Regions from separate parts of the Homo sapiens genome. Here region 2 is linked to region 1. The links come from fine-mapping of genetic effects on gene expression. A gene starts in region 1. The other region holds a variant in brackets. All regions are shown on one strand. Distances are between the middles of the regions.

Region 1 (9,254 bases):
ATTCCTTTATATGGCTGAATAGTATTCCATTGTGTGTGACACCGCATTTGGTTTATTCATTCATCTGTGGATAGGCACTTGAGTTGTTTCCACTTTTTGGCTACTGTGAGTAACGCTGTGAGCACTGGCGTTTAAGTGTGTTTAGTCCCTAGTTTCATATCTTTTGGGTTTATACCGAGAATGGAATTGCTTGGTCATTTGGTAATTTTATGTTTAACTTTTTGAGGACATGCCAAACTCTTTGCTTTCTTAATTATGATAATGCTTAAGTGAATATCTGTATTCATGAAGCTTCTTTGACACTTCCTCTTTTTTTTTTTTTTTTTGAGATGGAGTCTCGGTCTGTTGCCCAGGCTGGAGTGCAGTGGTGCGATCTCGGCTCACTGCAAGCTCTGCCTCCCGGGTTCACGCCATTCTCCTGCCTCAGCCTCCTGAGTAGCTGGGACTACAGGCGCCCCCCACCATGCCTGGCTAATTTTTTGTATTTTTAGTAGAGACGGGGTTTCACTGTGTTAGTTAGGATGCTCTCGATCTCCTGACCTCGTGATCCGCCCTCCTTGGCCTCCCAAAGTGCTGGGGTTACAGGCGTCAGCCACCGCGCCCAGCCTCCTCTTATTTCTTTAAATTCCTTGAAGTGAAATTAATGGGTCAAAAGGTGCAACAATTTGAGATACCATGCTAAATCCTATCTGAAAGGCTTGAACCCCTTTTGCTGCTGCCACAAATGTCTGAGAATGCCCTTGTCACCAAACCAACATGGCACTTAATATTTCACTGTTTTAAATGTTGGAGAATATTGTTGTCCATTTCTGGTGGAACCATAGTCTGGCGACAGAATGGCTTGCCTGACACAGCTTTTGATCACCAGCCCCAAGTCCTTCTCCCTCCCCTTCCCCTTATCCTTTGGTGCTGATCCAGCCCAGTTTATAGGTTCTGTTACATCTAACTTCCCAACTGTCTCTAGTCTGGTCACTTCTCCCCATCTGCCCAGCAAAGATGAGGTCGATTTGACTTGTAAAAGATTACCTTTTCTAAACAGTTTAAAAAAAAAAAGATGTCCTCTAACTCTGGGCCTCCCGCTGCCACTGTGCCTCTTCTCTAGAAGGCCTGAGGTCTCTGTGGAGCTTCCTACTTTGGCTGCTTCTCACATCTTTTCCTATCTTTCCTTCCTGCTATTCTCCTTCAGTTCTACAGCGAGTCGGGCATGCCTACCAAACATCTTTCAGACAGTGTGTGTGCTGTGTGTGGGCAGCAGATCTTTGTGGACGTCAGTGAAGAGGGGATCATTGAGAACACGTATAGGCTGTCCTGCAATCATGTGTATCCTGCCTCGAGCTCCTGGGCCACATCTCTCCTGCAATCTGCACACTGTAGTGAGAGAGAGAAAGAGGGTGGTCATGACCCTAGGCATGCTGTCCAGACCCTTGAGTGTAGGAGAGCCACAAGAGGGCCACCTTCCCTACCCTTTCCCACAGATCAGAGCCACTCTTAGGTAAACAGTGGTTACAACCTGGCTGGGTCTGAGAGGAACCTGAGGCTGCAGCTAGTGAGGCTGTGCTAGCAGACCTGAGATCTGACCAGTCACAGGGGAAGAGGACCCTCTAATGGGATCCCTCAGTTTAGCATCATCCTCTGTTCTGAATAACACTTGTAATATTTATCATGTATTTACCCAGCTCCCATTCTCTGCCTATGTTGGGAAAGCCATGTATTGTCTCCATTTTGCCCCATAACAGTCTTGTGAGATAGGGATCATTATCCTTACTTCACATGTGAGGAAACAGGTTCAGACACAGGGACTTGCCCAACATTACAGAGCTGATAAAGAGCGAAGGCAGGATTTGAACCTTTCAAAGACTGTCTGGGGCTGGAGTGCCGCCCTGGCTCTCACCATTTCCCTTGACCAGCGGTGCTCAGCTTCCACGAGTTCTGCATCCGTGGCTGGTGCATCGTGGGAAAGAAGCAAACGTGTCCCTACTGCAAAGAGAAGGTAGACCTCAAGAGGATGTTCAGCAATCCGTATCCTTTATTGGGGTCGTTGTTGGGAGTGGGCTGTGGGAAGAAAGTACTGGCCAGTGTGACCTGCATTTGGGTCCTCCTGGGGCCCTCACTTCTGCCCCCAACCAGAACATGTCAAACCATGGTGGGAAGCTGAGCTGCTAGTCCTGCCCCCATGATACAACCCCAGTTTCCCTATTCTAGGATTATTGCCTATTCTCAGCCTCCTTGCAGCCATTGTCACGGATAGATAGACTTGTGTCAGCCTCAGGCTGTGTTATCTTACACTGGCAGTTCCTTCTTAGAGAAGGTGTTACAGGAGGCCCTCCCTGCATGTTAGTCATGGGGAACTAGGATTTATCTCTATACCTCTCTCAGGGCTGCCCTGCCTCCAGTACCAGTCCCCTCTATCTGCCTCCCACCTTCTCTGCATTCAGCTCTTTACCCCAACAGACAGGCTGTGAGGAGGAAGAGGAGGGGGAGGGCAAAGTTGGGAGGGCTGCCTGAGTAGGAAGTGAGGCTGGGCCCTTCCAGAAAGCAGCCTCCATTCCTCTAGGCTGTGGAGCAGCTGGAAAGTGGGGCAGACCCAGGGAGCCCCACCACCCATGCTAGATCACTCCTGGCAGCTCTTGCACAGAGTCTCTTTTCTTTAACACACTGACAGCTGGGAGAGGCCTCACGTCATGTATGGGCAACTGCTGGACTGGCTTCGATACTTGGTAGCCTGGCAGCCTGTCATCATTGGTGTAGTCCAAGGCATCAACTACATCCTGGGCCTGGAATAGTGATGAAGAGCATCAGTGGAAAACCCACCCCACACGCCATGGACCTCAGGGCACTCTCCTCCCTGCCCACAAAGACCTCCTGGGTGGGAAAGACTCAAAGGGGTGCTTGGGCCACTCAGGACCCCTCTGGCTGTGTCGGACTGGGGAGGGATATGATGGAGAGCCAGCCAGTGGGGCTGTCAGCAGTGGGGGGCTTTTTAAAAGAAAACTATTTTGATGAATATATTTAAAAAACCTTTTTTTATTGTGGAGCATAGGAATTGCCCCCCTCCAGGCTTCACCCTCCCTGCCTAAGCAGGGTGGGGGCAGAGCCATGACATTTTTGGTTTAAAGGAGCCTTCTCATCTCTGGCCGAGAACACTGCTGGGCTCCCAGGTAGCTGAAGGCCTCAGCCCACCCACTCCCTTCTTCCCTGTGTGGGGCTCAAGCCTGGTGCACTTAGTATAGAAGAGCTAACGTACTCAGGCTTGTGCCACGGGTGAGCACTGAGGCCCCAGGTGTCCTCCCTCCCCCACTGTCTGGGACACAGGACAGGTGTTGCGTCTGACTCTGTCTCCCCCTGTCCAAGAGCTATAGGCTGGTTGAGGCAAGTGGAACCTTATCAGTGACTTGGCCAACAAGGGAAGCCTTGGGGCCTCAGAATTCATTGAAGATTTGTTTTGGGACAACTGGAAGAATCAGCACCATGGATACTCGCCCGTGGGCAGGGCTGTGGTCAGCCAAGAATAGAGGTCATATAGTTGGGCCATGGGGCAATTGTTGGCAGCCATGACTGACGGCCCCTTGTGCAAGCTCATTCTTCAGTGGATCCTTCAGTGGAGTGGTGACACGTGCCAGCGGTCACTCTGCCACATCACTTCCTTCTTGAAAGCCTAAGAGTGCGTATGCGTGTGTGTGTGTGTGTGTGTGTGTACGTGAGGCAGAAGAATATGACAGATGTCAGCTTCTCCCTGTGTCAGATGATATGTCCTTGAAGCTGGCAGGGGATTCCCAGTCCAGGGAATATCCCTACATGATTTTTGTCATTCATGGGTCCTCCCTGGGCCTGACAACGGGAGTGGTGGGTGGGTGAGAACAGGTTCTGAGAGGGGGCTTCTAGGAAGGCCCCAGCCCTAGTCCTAGGCGACTTGAATAAAGTGGGAGGTCAAACATGGGCCTTCGGCATTGGGTTTCTAGGGAATATGGCTCAGTAGGGCCTGCCCCTTCAAGGGCAGCAAGAACGAAGCAGGATGTTGTCACTCCCGTCTGAATAAAGCTCCATGAGCTGGGTTGGAAAGCTGAACATTTATCTTGCTTTCTTCTTCCCACCTCTTTCCCTGGGGTCCCCAGGGGTGTCTTGCCTTTGTTAACCCCCATCGGAGACCTGAGGGTCTGGGGGTGGTTGGGCCTGCCTTTCTGCTGTTCCCAGCTGTTCCCCTGCTGACATCCCTAGGAGTGGTGGAATGCCAGGCTCCTGTCCTGTGGCCTGGGGGCCTGGGGCATCATTGGGCCTGCCTTCAGACTGAGGTTGCTCTATGTTCTCACTGCCTGAGGACAGTGTCCCGCCACCACCTGCCTTCCTGAGGACCACACTCAGGCTCGGCTTCTCTTCCCCAGCTGTGGCTTCCCATGGTACCCTGCTGCTTATGCCACCTGTGGGGCTGTTCCCCTCCTCAGAGAGGGGAATGGGGCTGGTCAGAGGACCTAGGGATCACCCTTCCTTTTACTTTTTCCCCCCACCCCCCTGTCAGGCTCAGGTGAGAAGCCGAGGCCAGGCTGTCCAAAGCTCTTTTCATGTGTAACAGTTCTGAGTCCCTTGACCTCCCCCCTTGGCCTGACTCTGGTCTCGGTTCCACTAAGACAGAGTCCTGTCATCTTTCCCTACCATCCCCCACTGGACTGTCTCTCTCAGAAACCCCAGGCAGCCTTGCCTCCTGACCTAACTCCTGGAGATGCTGGTGTTCTTGGGAGGAATTTCTCCTGCATCTTACATGCTAGAAGCCCCTGGGGCAGGAGGTAGGGGGAGGAATTGAGAGGAGGAAAAACATGAACTAGACACCTAGAGAAGAAGGATGTGACTTGTAGTATCCTATGTCTAAATTAGGAATATGAATCTGGTTTTTCTACAAGAAGTTTGAGATCACAGCTGACTGTGTTCCTGATGCATCCACCAAACCCAGTTCCATCTGTGGGCCTCCCTGGCTCTGTCACCAGCCGTTGCACCCTCCCAATCACAGGAGTCACAAACCTCAGACATGCAGCTCCTGTCCACACTTAATATATGCATGCATTGGATCACCCAGCCCTGGTCTTTCTGCCTCCATGGATAACTGCATGACCCTGAGAGAAAACCTCCTTAGATTTAGCATCCTAGGTTCCTCACACGCCTCACCCTGAATCCTGGCCCTCCCGCAGCCCCAGCGCCATTTGTCCCATCAGTGACAAGATTCATATTCTGATGTAGACTCTGTTGCCAGAGCCAGTGTTGAGCCAGTCCGCCTCTTCCCCGGGAAGTGCCTGCCCTTCCCTCCTGTTAGGGTTGGCTCTCGAGCTTGTGTGCCAGTTCCTGGGTTGGCCGTGAGAGTTCTACAGACAAGGAGGAAGTGCTCTCGGTGTATTTCCTGTGGTGGGTTCACACGCAGCTAGACACAGCTAACTTGAGTCTTGGAGCTCCTAGAGGGAAGCTTCTGGAAAGGAAGGCTCTTCAGGACCTCTTAGGAGCCAGGTAGGAGTCTGGGACTACTAGTGAACCTAGACCTGTGGCTCTGGCCAGAGGGGCTAGGATGAGAGACAGAGGGTGTGATGGTGGGTGCTGGGAGATGTAGCCGACCTTGGGGCTGGTGGCTGGGGGAGTGGGTAGCCTGGGAAAGGCCAGGATGTGGACGGACTGGTATGGCATTGAGCCTGAAGTGGTCCAACTTGGGGTTCCCCAGTGCCTAGGAAAGTTGTCCCCTTGAATGTCAGTGTGAAGGTGAAGGAGGAAGCAGATGCCTGTTCATATGGAAACAAAGACCTGGCTGTGAAGAGGGGAGGCGGACACCAAAGTCCTGACACTTGGGCGGGACAGAATTGATCTGTGAGAGACTCATCTAGTTCATACCCTAGGTGACCCTGGGGGTGGCATGGGGGTAGATTAGAGATCCCAGTCTGGTATCCTCTGGAGAGTAGGAGTCCCAGGAGCTGAAGGTTTCTGGCCACTGAACTTTGGCTAAAGCAGAGGTGTCACAGCTGCTCAAGATTCCCTGGTTAAAAAGTGAAAGTGAAATAGAGGGTCGGGGCAGTGCTTTCCCAGAAGGATTGCTCGGCATCCTGCCCTTCCCAGAAGCAGCTCTGGTGCTGAAGAGAGCACTGCCTCCCTGTGTGACTGGGTGAGTCCATATTCTCTCTTTGGGTCTCAATTTTGCCTTCCCTAATGAAGGGGTAAGATTGGACTAGGTAAGCATCTTACAACCATTTGTGGTCATGAGAGCTGGGGTGGGGAAGGATTGTCACTTGACCCCCCCAGCTCTGTTTCTAAGTGCTGAAAGAGCTCCAGGCTATGCTACGGGAGGAGAAGCCAGCTACTGAGGAAAAGCCAGCTACTGAGAAAAAGCGGGAGTGGTTTACCATTCTCCTCCCCCACCTTTCACCAGAGAAGAGGACGTTGTCACAGATAAAGAGCCAGGCTCACCAGCTCCTGACGCATGCATCATGACCATGAGACACAACTGGACACCAGGTAGGCCTTGGGGCTACGCATGGGCAGGCGGGGTAGGGTGAGGTCTATGAACAGAATGGAGCAATGGGCTAACCCGGAGCCTTCACTCCAAGGCAAACCACCCAGCGCACCTGGTGCTGTTGCTTTAAGAACCTGGGCAGATATTGTAGCTCTGGCTCCAGTCTAAAGCTTCTCTGTACTCTGTTCAATAAAGGGCTAAGGGGTGGGTGCTGAGGGGTCCCTCTTCCCGCTCTGATTCCCTGGCTAGAACCCAGACATCTCTGGGCTGGAGTTACATCCTTACCCGGGCAGCCCACTCTGTCTCCAGAGCCGCTGACCTGTAACTGTCCTTTCCTCAGACCTCAGCCCTTTGTGGGTCCTGCTCCTGTGTGCCCACGTCGTCACTCTCCTGGTCAGAGCCACACCTGTCTCGCAGACCACCACAGCTGCCACTGCCTCAGTTAGAAGCACAAAGGACCCCTGCCCCTCCCAGCCCCCAGTGTTCCCAGCAGCTAAGCAGTGTCCAGCATTGGAAGTGACCTGGCCAGAGGTGGAAGTGCCACTGAGTAAGAAGCACAGTGGTGGAGGGTGGGCTATGGGCACAGAGGTTCCCAGGGTCGGGTTGACTCCTGAGCGCCAGTCCCCTTCTGCCCATGTACCACCAGCTGAGCCAGCTGGGCTGAGCACGCACCATTCTCCCTCCCCAACCCAGTGTCATGGGTGCAGGCTTGGCGCAGCTCCCAAGATGCTCCCTATCAAATAGGACAGAGAACTCAAGACATAAGTAATGGTCACAGGACCTCCCAGAGCCTTGGTTGCAGTGGACCCCAAGGCCAGCCCCTCCACCCAGAGCCTGCTGGCCTCTGGCCATCTCAGAGGAGCAGCAGCCATCCAGCACTGCCTTTGTCACCTGGGCTCCCAAGTCACCGAGGCTGGGCACTAGAAAAGGTCATCCTGAGGAGACAGGTTCAGAAGAGGATTCATCACGTGAACCAAGGACCATTCCTCACATTCCCCGTGTTTAGGGCTAGGGCCTCTCGGAGACAACTGCACTTCTGTAACGGACGTTCCCACCTAGGTGGTGTGCAGAGCAGTTCTCTAGGTTCCAGATGCATGGGGACTGGGGGGAGCTGGCAGGGAGGGCACAGCAGAGCAGGGTAGGGGAAGGGCCTGCTCTTCTGAAGAGCTAACTGCTGCCTGTGTCCCTAGATGGAACGCTGAGCTTATCCTGTGTGGCCTGCAGCCGCTTCCCCAACTTCAGCATCCTCTACTGGCTGGGCAATGGTTCCTTCATTGAGCACCTCCCAGGCCGACTGTGGGAGGGGAGCACCAGGTGAGGGTCGCAGCAGCCAGGTGGGTGGGAAGGAGGCCTTCTGCGGCCTTCTCATGACCTTTCCTTCCCTTCCGCTCCAGCCGGGAACGTGGGAGCACAGGTACGCAGCTGTGCAAGGCCTTGGTGCTGGAGCAGCTGACCCCTGCCCTGCACAGCACCAACTTCTCCTGTGTGCTCGTGGACCCTGAACAGGTTGTCCAGCGTCACGTCGTCCTGGCCCAGCTCTGGGTGAGGAGCCCAAGGAGAGGCCTCCAGGAACAGGAGGAGCTCTGCTTCCATATGTGGGGAGGAAAGGGTGGGCTCTGCCAGAGCAGCCTGTGAACTAATGCCCAGCATTCCTCAAGGTCAGCCAGACAAAAAGGAACTTAGGTCTTGGGCAGAGGAGGTGTAGCCTGGGGCAAAGTGATGAGATGTCCCTCCTTTCCTTGGCCTGATCCTTGTCTGCCTTCACTTCCCTAGGCTGGGCTGAGGGCAACCTTGCCCCCCACCCAAGAAGCCCTGCCCTCCAGCCACAGCAGTCCACAGCAGCAGGGTTAAGACTCAGCACAGGGCCAGCAGCAGCACAACCTTGACCAGAGCTTGGGTCCTACCTGTCTACCTGGAGTGAACAGTCCCTGACTGCCTGTAGGCTGCGTGGATGCGCAACACACCCCCTCCTTCTCTGCTTTGGGTCCCTTCTCTCACCAAATTCAAACTCCATTCCCACCTACCTAGAAAATCACAGCCTCCTTATAATGCCTCCTCCTCCTGCCATTCTCTCTCCACCTATCCATTAGCCTTCCTAACGTCCTACTCCTCACACTGCTCTACTGCTCAGAAACCACCAAGACTGTTGATGCCTTAGCCTTGCACTCCAGGGCCCTACCTGCATTTCCCACATGACTTTCTGGAAGCCTCCCAACTATTCTTGCTTTTCCCAGACAGCTCCCACTCCCATGTCTCTGCTCATTTAGTCCCGTCTTCCTCACCGCCCCAGCAGGGGAACGCTCAAGCCTGGTTGAAATGCTGCCTCTTCAGTGAAGTCATCCTCTTTCAGCTCTGGCCGCATTCTGCAGACTTCCTATCTTCGTGCTGTATGTTTTTTTTTTCCCCCTTCACTCTAATGGACTGTTCCAGGGAAGGGATGGGGGCAGCAGCTGCTTCGGATCCACACTGTATCTGTGTCATCCCCACATGGGTCCTCATAAAGGATTATTCAATGGAGGCATCCTGACATCTGTTCATTTAGGCTTCAGTTCCACTCCCAGGAACTTTGCCTGTCCCACGAGGGAGTATGGGAGAGAGGGACTGCCACACAGAAGCTGAAGACAACACCTGCTTCAGGGGAACACAGGCGCTTGAAAAAGAAAAGAGAGAACAGCCCATAATGCTCCCCGGGAGCAGAGGCCACTAATGGAGAGTGGGAAGAGCCTGGAAAGATGTGGCCTCAGGAAAAGGGATGAGAGAAAGGAGGTGGTATGGA
Region 2 (9,254 bases), 270 kb before region 1:
TTTCAGGTGGCATGATTGTATATCTAGAAAACCCCATTGTCTCAGCCCAAAATCTCCTTAAGCTGATAGGCAACTTCAGCAAAGTCTCAGGATACAAAATCAATGTGCAAAAATCACAAGCATTCTTATATACCAATACAGACAAACAGAGAGCCAAATCATGAGTGAACTCCCATTCACAATTGCTTCAAAGAGAATAAAATACCTATGAATCCAACTTACAAGGGAGGTGAAGGACCTCTTCAAGGAGAACTATAAACCACTGCTCAAAGAAATAAAAGAGGACACAAACAAATGGAATAACATTCCATGCTCATGGGTAGGAAGAATCAATATCGTGAAAATGGACATACTGCCCAAGGTAATTTATAGATTCAATGCCATCCCCATCAAGTTACCAATGACTTTCTTCACAGAATTGGAAAAAACTGCTTTAAAGTTCATATGGAACCAAAAAAGAGCCCACATTGCTAAGTCAATCCTAAGCCAAAAGAACAAAGCTGGAGACACCACGCTACCTGACTTCAAACTATACTGCAAGCCTACAGTAATCAAAACATCATGGTACTGGTACAAAAACAGAGATATAGACCAATGGAACATAACAGAGCCCTCAGAAATAATGCCACATATCTACAACCATCTGATCTTTGACAAACCTGACAAAAACAAGCAATGGGGAAAGGATTCCCTATTTAATAAATTGTGCTGGGAAAACTGGCTAGCCATATGTAGAAAGCTGAAACTGGATCCCTTCCTTACACCTTATACAAAAATTAATCCAAGATGGATTAAAGACTTAAATATTAGACCTAAAACCATAAAAACCCTAGAAGAAAACCTCAGCAATACCATTCAGGATATAGGCATGGGCAAGAACTTCATGTCTAAAACACCAAAAGCAATGGCAAGAAAAACCAAAATTAACAAATGGGATCTAATTAAACTAAAGAGCTTCTGCACAGCAAAAGAAACTACCATCAGAGTGAACAGGCAACCTACAGAATGGGAGAAATTTTTTGCAATCTACTCATCTGACAAAGGGCTAATATCCAGAATCTACAATGAGCTCCAATAAATTTACAAGAAAAAAACAAACAATCCCATCAAAAAGTGGGCAAAGGATATGAACAGACACTTCTCAAAAGAAGACATTTATGCAGCCAAAAGACACTTGAAAAAAATGCTCATCATCCCTGGCCAGAGAAATGCAAGTCAAAACAACAATGAGATACCATCTCACACCAGTTAGAATGGCGATCATTAACAAGTCAGGAAACAACAGGTGCTGAAGAGGATGTGGAGAAATAGGAACACTTTTACACTGTTGGTGGGACTGTAAACTAGTTCAACCATTGTGGAATTCAGTGTGGCAATTTCTCAGGGATCTAGAACTAGAAATACCATTTGACCCAGCCATCCCATTACTGGGTATATACCCAAAGGATTATAAATCATGCTGCTATAAAGACACATGCACACGTATGTTTATAATGGCACTATTCACAATAGCAAAGGCTTGGAACCAAGCCAAATGTCCAACAACGATAGACTGGATTAAGAAAATGTGGCACATATACACCATGGAATACTATGCAGCCATAAAAAATGATGAGTTTACGTCCTTTGTAGAGACATGGATGAAGCTGGAAACCATCATTCTCAGCAAACTATTGCAAGGACAAAAAACCAAACACCGCATGTTCTCACTCACAGGTAGGAATTAAACAATGAGAACACACGGACACAGGAAGGGGAACATCACACACTGGGGCCTGTTGTGGGGTCAGGGGAGGGGGGAGGAATAGCATTAAGAGATATACCTAATGTTAAATGACGAGTTAATGGGTACAGCACACCAACATGGCACATGTATGCATATGTAACAAACCTGCACGTTGTGCACATGTACCCTAAAACTTAAAGTATAATAAAAAATAAAATATAAAATAAAAACTTTGGCTGTTGACTCCAAATATCCTGCTTCATCATCTCTCCACTCCAGAAACTTTTCACATGCTTACAAAGGGTGTTCGTTTCTCCTCTAAGTATTTGCTCCCCAGCCCCACCTGCAAGAATGTGGAAGTAGGGACTCTGCCTGGGATGGTAACTCTCAAATATAAGGCAAGACTTGTCCCTCCACCAATATCCCCAGGACTGAAGGACTGTGAAAGTCTGCATATTGATCAAGCTTCTCCCTCCCTTATCTGAAGGGACTTACTTCCTTCAAGACACTTTTCCTCTTCCCACCTAGCTCCATGCCCCCATCCAGTCATCTTCCAACCCATCTCTCCCCACCTGCATGCCACACAAGAAGGGCATGACCACAGCACCTGGAAGTTCCTTAAAGTTGAGTGGTGTGTCAGGCCGGGTGCGGTGGCTCATGTCAGTAACCCCAGCACTTTGGGAGGCTGAGGCAGGCAGGTCACTTGAGGTCAGGAGTTCGAGACCAGCCTGGCCAAAATGGTGAAACTCCATCTCTACTAAAAATATAAAAATTAGCTGGGGGTGGTTGTGCTTGCCTGTAGTCCCAGCTACTTGGGGAGCTGAGGCAAGGGAATCACTTGAACCTGGGAGGCAGAGGTTACAGTGAGCCAAGATTGTGCAATTGAACTCCAGCCTGGGCGATAGAGTGAGACTCTGTCTGAAAAAAAAAAAAAAAAGAAATCGAATGGTGTGATTAGCTTATGATTTTTTAAAAATGGAATGATGTATTCATTTTCTAAGCTGCATAACAAATCAACACAAATTTAGCAGCTTAAAACATCCATCTATTACCTCTCCTTTCCTGTGGGTCATGAGTCTGGGGGTGCAGCTTTAGCTGGGTCCTCTGCTCAGGTTCTTACAAGGTTGTGATCAAGGTGCCGGCTGGAATTAGTGTGTCATATGAGGCTTGGGGTCTTCTCCCAACCTCACATGGTTGTTGGCAGAATTTATTTCCATGCAACTGTGGAACTCATGTGGCTGGCTTCTTCAAAACCAGCCAGGCATGGTGGCTCACGCCTGTAATCCCAGCACTTTCGGAGGCCGAGGCAGGTGGATCACCTGATGTCAGGAGTTCGAGACCAGCCTGGCCAATATGGTGAAACCCCATCTCTACATAACTTAGCCGGGCATGATTCTCAAGGAGAATCACTTGAACCCAGGAGGCAGAGGTTGCAGTAAGCCGAGATCGTACCACTGCACTCCAGCCTGGGCAACAGAGTGAGACTCCATGTCAAAAACAAACAAACAAACAAAAAACAAAAACCAGGAGGAAGGAGTCTCTCTCCTCCAGACCTTCATTGAAGATCTCACCTGAAGATGTCAGGCCCACCCTGAATAATCTCCCTTTTGATTAACTCAAAGTGAATGGATTAGGGGCTTAGTTACATCTGCAAAATTCCTTCAACTTTTTCATAGGTATAGATTAGAAGCAAGCCATGGGTCCTGCCTACACTCCAGGGGAGAGGAGATTACACCTGGCATTTATCCAGGGCAAGAACCTAAGGGGTCATCTCAGAATTCTGTCTTCCAAATAGATCCTCGGTGGAGCTTACATGCCTGGGCGAGCACCAGCCTTTGTTTAAAGGCAACAGAGAATTGTGGCCTGGCTCAGATCTCCAGCAAGCCTCCAGAATGATGGTCCACTCTCTGAACCCAGGGCCAAGGCAGCAGGAGCTTTTGGTGCACATGGGGGCTTACCCCACTTTGAGGTGAGTCGTCACATCCATATTAGACCCTAGCTGTTGCTTAGGCAAAAATGATGATTTAGAAGAAGACGGAGAGAAGAGGAGAGTTAATTTAAAAGTACTTATATTCGGCCGGGCGTGGTGGCTCATGCCTGTAATCGCAGCACTTTGGGAGACTGAGGCAGGCGGATCATGAGGTCAGGAGATGGAGACCATCCTGGCTAACACGGTGAAATCTTGTCTCTATTAAAAATACAAAAAATTAGCTGGGCGTGGTGGCGGGCGCCTGTAGTCCCAGCTACTCAGGAGGCTGAGGCAGGAGAATGGCATGAACCCAGGAGGCGGAGCCTGCAGTGAGCCGAGATCTCACCACTGCACTCCAGCCTGGGCAACAGAGCGAGACTCCATCTCAAAAAAAGAAAAAAAAAAGAGAAAGTACTTATATTCATTCCCTAGGGATGCCACAACCAAGTACCAAAAGCTGGGTGACTTGAAACCAGAGAAATTGATTGTCTTGTGGCTCTGGTAGCCAGCAGTCTGAAACGGAGGTGCCAGCAGGGCCATGCTCCCTCCTGCACTTGTCGGGGAGTCCTGCCTTGCCTCTTCGTAGCTTCCTGTGGTCTCCTGGCAGTCTTCAGTGTTTCTTGGTTTGCATACGCATCAGTCCAATCTTCCGTCCAATCCATGGCCTTCTTCCCTGTGTCTCTATGACTCGGCGTGTCCTCTCCTCTTTTATAAGGACACCAGTCATTGA[C/G]TTGGGCCCTCCCTACTCCAGGACGACTTCATCCTAATCAATAGCATCTGCAATAACCCTATTTCTTTCCTTCTTTCTTTCTTTCTTTCTTTTTTTTTTTTTTTTTTTTTTGAGACGGAGTTTCACTCTTGTTGCCCAGGCTGGAGTGCAATAGCGCGATCTCAGCTCAATGCAACCTCTGTCTCCTGAGTTCAAGCAATTCTCCTGCCTCAGCCTCCTGAGTAGCTGGGATTACAGGTGTGTGCCAACACACCCAGGTAATTTTGAATTTTTAGTAGAGAAGGGGTTTCTCCATGTTGGTCAGGCTGGTCTCAAACTCCTGACCTCAGGTGATCCGCCTGCCTTGGCCTCCCAAAGTGCTGGGATTACAGGCGTGAGCCACCACGCCTGACCCGCAATAACTCTATTTCTAAATAAGGTCACATTCTGAGCTACTAGAATTCAGGATTTCAACATGTTTTGAGGAGGACTCAATTTAACCCATAAGAATACTATGTGGGCCACACGTGCTGCTTCACATCTGTTATCCCAGCACTTTGGGAGGTTGAAGCAGGAGGATCATTGCTCAGGGCGTAGGGGGGCACCAGGTGCATAAAACCACAGCGTTGACTGGTGTGGGGGCTCACACCTGTATGTTTGGGAAGCTAAGGCAGGGCGATCACTTGAGCCCAGGAGTTTGAGGCCAGCCTGGGTGACATAGTGAGATCTCACTTCTAAAAAAAAAAAAAAAATTTAATTAACTGGGCATGTTGGTACCCACCTACAGTCCCAGCTACTCAGGAGGCTGAAGCAGGAGGGTCGCTTGAGTCCAGAAGATCAAGTCTGTGGCGAGAAGTGATTGCACCACTGCACTCCAGCCTGGACAACAGAGCAAGCCCTGTCTCAACCAAAAAAAAAAAAAAAAAAAAAAAAATCTCCCTTGTCTTCTGATTCCCTGAGCTGTCATAGAAAGGAAGTGAAGCAGTGAAAGCATCCCCCCAAAAAGGACTTTTCAAAACCAGCCTAAGCAACATAGCAAGACCTTGCCTTTAGAAACTATTTAAATTTGAAGGAAAAAAAAAAAAAGCAGTACTATGGCACAGAGTTGACAGCTACAGGTGTGGCTACATCCAGGTCCTAAAACTAAATCATCAGAATGACCCCTCACCCTCCCCCCGCTTTCCATTTTACTTTCTTAAGAATGAACATGAAATTTCCAAGATTGTTTCTCCTTTGGCTAATCTGCTTCTCAGACCCAATCACTGTGGCCAGGGTGGTGGAAGGATACTGACATCCAGGCTGGGACCACATGCCCCAGCTCCAGATCAGGGTGGGGAATGGCCAGTCGCACACATGTCGTGGGGGACTAGTGACTCCTCGGTGGAAAATCGGGGACTGTCATTGGAGAGGAGCGATAGAAGAAAGGCTGAAGCAGTGCATTGTATCTCCTGCACCAGCCTGGGCCTCAATGTCTTGAGTACTGATGACCCAGTACTCAGTCTAGGGCAATCCCAACTCCATCTGCGGGGCTGCCCACAGTACATGGACCCCCTCACTGGATTTGCTGACCACACGTGCAAACAGCCACTTCCCAGCCCCACTCCACGCAGTCCCCCTGAACCCTGTCAAAATTCCCCTCAGTTCTCACCAAGACTAAAAGCAATTCTGAGGGTGAGCGGCTCATTCTGCTAGTTTAACTCTCTCGATTCCTTCCCTCTCCAGAACTCTGTACTTACTGCTCCGTCACTGGAAATGACAATGAACATCTTCACAATCTCAGGTTTTATTGCAAAGTGATTGAGGACCAGTTAGAATAAGTTATGCTACAGAAACTAAAGAAATCCCGTCAAACAAATGGTATGTAATAGAAAGTCTTAGGGCAGCCGTGTATATTTTCTCCCCCAATGAATCAATTGAAAATGAGAAGCTGTTACCGCCATGTTCCGGGCAGAAGCTATCAAAAGTATAAGCCATGATATTATAATTTGATGATTTTTCATCCGTCAAATGGATATGGCCCAGGGGTGAAAAGTGGATGCTCCGTAACTAGATGATGGTCAAGAGTTATAAAAATGAGGTCCTCTCTGTTCAACATTTCTCCTTTCTTGAAAGGATACTCAATGTCATGCTCAGGGCCTCTAATGGCCAGAAATAAATTTCCTCCCAGTTCCAGAGCACCCCAGGGCAACCCCAAAACCAGAGCAACTGCTTATTGCCATGTAGACTATGTACTATGCAATTCCTGGGGTGGCATTTTCATAAATATGTGGGTGGCGCCCCCTGGAGGTATGCAATGCACAACTTGCACAAATGGTAAGTCATCGTATCCCAAGGTCCACAAAGAAGAGGTAAACAAAATTCCCATCGATGTTGCCATCAGTCATGAGTCTGCCTTTTCTTCATGGGACAGTAGCAAAAACAATTTGGCCAAGTGTGCTTGGATGATCTCTAAGATGGAATCAGGGTCTCTCACTTTCAGCACTATTGACCTTTGGGGCTGGATCATTATTTTGTCTTAGTGGGATTTGTCCAGGGAATTGTAGGATGTTTAGCAGCATCACTGGCCTCTACCCATTAGCTGCCAGTAGCACCACCTCCTCCAGCTGCAACAACCAAAATTGTCTCCAGACATGGTCACATGTTCTCTGGGGGGCAAAATCACCCCCTGGTTGAGAAGTCCTGAAGTAAAGACATAATACGCAAATCACATGTAAGTAAGAGAGCCTAAGGGCCACACAGGTGATGCTGTATCCATGACAAAGACAGAGACTTAAAGAGATTAGAGAGGTGGAGAAAGATAAAAGAAATGAAGTCCCAGCTGCCGAGAGCAACAGATGCTGACTAGATGTTGTTGATAGTCATCTTTAAACTGAGTTAAAAGATGCTGAGAAGCAATCAGCTGCCATCCTGCCCTCCAGGGACAACGCTGCTGAAAAAGGCCTGGAGAGCAACAAAGCCCCAAACGCAGGTGCACTGAGTAAAGAAACCAGAGATTGAGACAAAAAAGACATTCCCTCAAAGACTACTCATTTCCAAGAGGGGAGAAAAAGTGGAGTCATGAAAAACAGTTGAGGCTGGGTAGAGTGACTCGCACCTGTAATCCCAGCACTTTGGGATTACTCCCGGGCTGAGATGGGAAGATTGCTTGAACTCAGGAGTTTAAGACCAGCCTGGGCAAGATAGCAAGACCTTGCCTCTAGAAAAAGGGAAAAAATTAGCCAGGTGTGGTGATACATGCCTGTGGTCTCAGCTACTTGGGAGGCTGGGGTGGGAGGATCGCTTGAACCCAGGAGGTAGAAGCTGCAGTGAGCAGGGATCGTACCACTGCACTCCAGCCTGGGCTACAGATCCTGTCTCAAAAAAGAAAAAAATTAAACAAAATTAAGGCTGGGCACGATGGCTCATTCCTGTAATCCCAGCACTTTGGGAGGCCAAGGTGGGCAGATCACGAGGTGAGGAGATTGAGACCATCCTGGCTAACACGGTGAAACCCCATCTCTACTAAAAATACAAACAAGTAGCCGGACATGGTGCTGGGTACCTATAGTCCCAGCTACTCTGGAGGCTGAAGCAGAAGAATGGAGTGACCTCGGGAGGTGGAGCTTGCAGTGAGCCAAGATCACACCACTACACTCCAGCCTGGGCAAAAGAGCAAGAACCCATCTCAAAAAAAAAAGAAAATTAAAAATTTTTTTGAGACCAAGTCTCACTCTGTCACCCAGGCTGGAGTGAAATGGTGCGATCTTGGCTCACTGCAACCTCCGCCTCCTGGGTTCAAGTGATTCTCATGTCTCAACCTTGTGCCTCAACATGACTACAGGCATGTTGTCACCATGCCTAATTTTTGCATTTTTAGTAGAGATGGGGTTTCACCATGTTGTCCAGGATGGTCTTTAACTCCTAGGTTCAAGCAGTCTACCCACCTCAGCCTCCCAAAATGCTGAGATTACAGGCATGAGCCACCGTGCCCGACCTCTAACTTTTCATTATGGAAATTTCCCATATACACAAAAAGCAGGGAGAGAATTATACCATGAACCCCCATGCACCCATCATCCCACTGGAAGAACTTGTCAACATTTCTCCAATCTCATTCCAGTTCCCACTTTTCTTTTCCTTCTTGCTATTTTAGGACATTTTAAAGCAAATTCCAGACATTTCATTTCACCCATATCCATAACACACCAGGGTGCATTCTTGATGTAAGGATTTTGTTTTGTTTTATAACACCCATGACATTGCCACAGTTAATAGATTTAACATGAAGAAACTAAGATTCTTGCAGGTGGAGAAAAGATCTAATTACCACCTTAAAGCCTCTCCTACTAGAGCTTCTCAGAGCTGAACATGTATGCAAATCACCTGGGCATCTTGTTAAAATGCAGATTCTGGCCCAGGAGGTCCTTCCGGGTGAGCCCTGAGAGTCTTCAATTCCAAAAGCTCCCAGGTGATGCAATGCTAAGGGTCCATGAATCACAAAAGAGGAAGGGTCGGTCAAACACCCACAACAACTGGGTGCAAAGTCCTGACTGTTCCTGACTGCAGGGCCTTCAGTGAACGGGGAAGCTGGGGACCATTTGGGAAAGAAGGGAGGTTTTTCGTATCAGCTCCAGGCCTTGTAGAACTGCCAGGGAATAACAGACACAAGGTCAGCAAAGTCTAACCAACAGCACGAGTGCATTCATATTCCACAACCACTGCAGCAAAGAACCATGAAATGGGTGGCTTCAAACAATGTCTGGGCCGGGTGCCATGGCTCACACCTAAATAATCTTAGGACTTTGGAAAGCTGAGGTGGGTGGATCACTTGAGGCCAGGAATTCGAGACCAGCCTGGCCAATATGGCAAAA

Alleles and levels. Positions count from the first base shown, and alleles are read on the strand shown. Sizes are in standard deviations (SD) of each study's normalised expression.
In carriers of allele C in region 2, the expression in cerebellum of the gene that starts at base 5,377 in region 1 tends to be higher than with G alone (large effect, 1.1 SD a copy in GTEx).

The links. PIP is the estimated chance that this variant, and not a neighbour inherited with it, causes the effect.
Region 2: its variant is fine-mapped to the expression of IL18BP in cerebellum (GTEx, PIP above 0.99). The same link has a PIP of 0.9 or more in esophagus muscle.

The regions. Positions count from the first base shown.
Region 1 is chr11:71,993,533-72,002,786 of GRCh38, forward strand. It overlaps IL18BP (interleukin 18 binding protein), which reads left to right and starts at 5,377. Exons shown (of 6, transcript NM_001039660.2): 1 at 5,377-5,487; 2 at 6,395-6,480; 3 at 6,819-7,025; 4 at 7,669-7,792; 5 at 7,873-8,020; 6 at 8,252-9,254. The coding sequence starts at 6,453. The coding sequence ends at 8,329. RNF121 (ring finger protein 121) reads left to right here. Exons shown (of 9, transcript NM_018320.5): 7 at 1,187-1,320; 8 at 1,918-2,019; 9 at 2,663-4,065. The coding sequence ends at 2,783.
Region 2 is chr11:71,727,901-71,737,154 of GRCh38, forward strand. It overlaps the pseudogene ENPP7P8. Among named protein-coding and RNA genes, the nearest start is that of DEFB108B, 100 kb to the right of the region's middle. RefSeq lists an enhancer at 6,713-7,586. The variant C/G (reference allele first, on the strand shown) is at 4,426.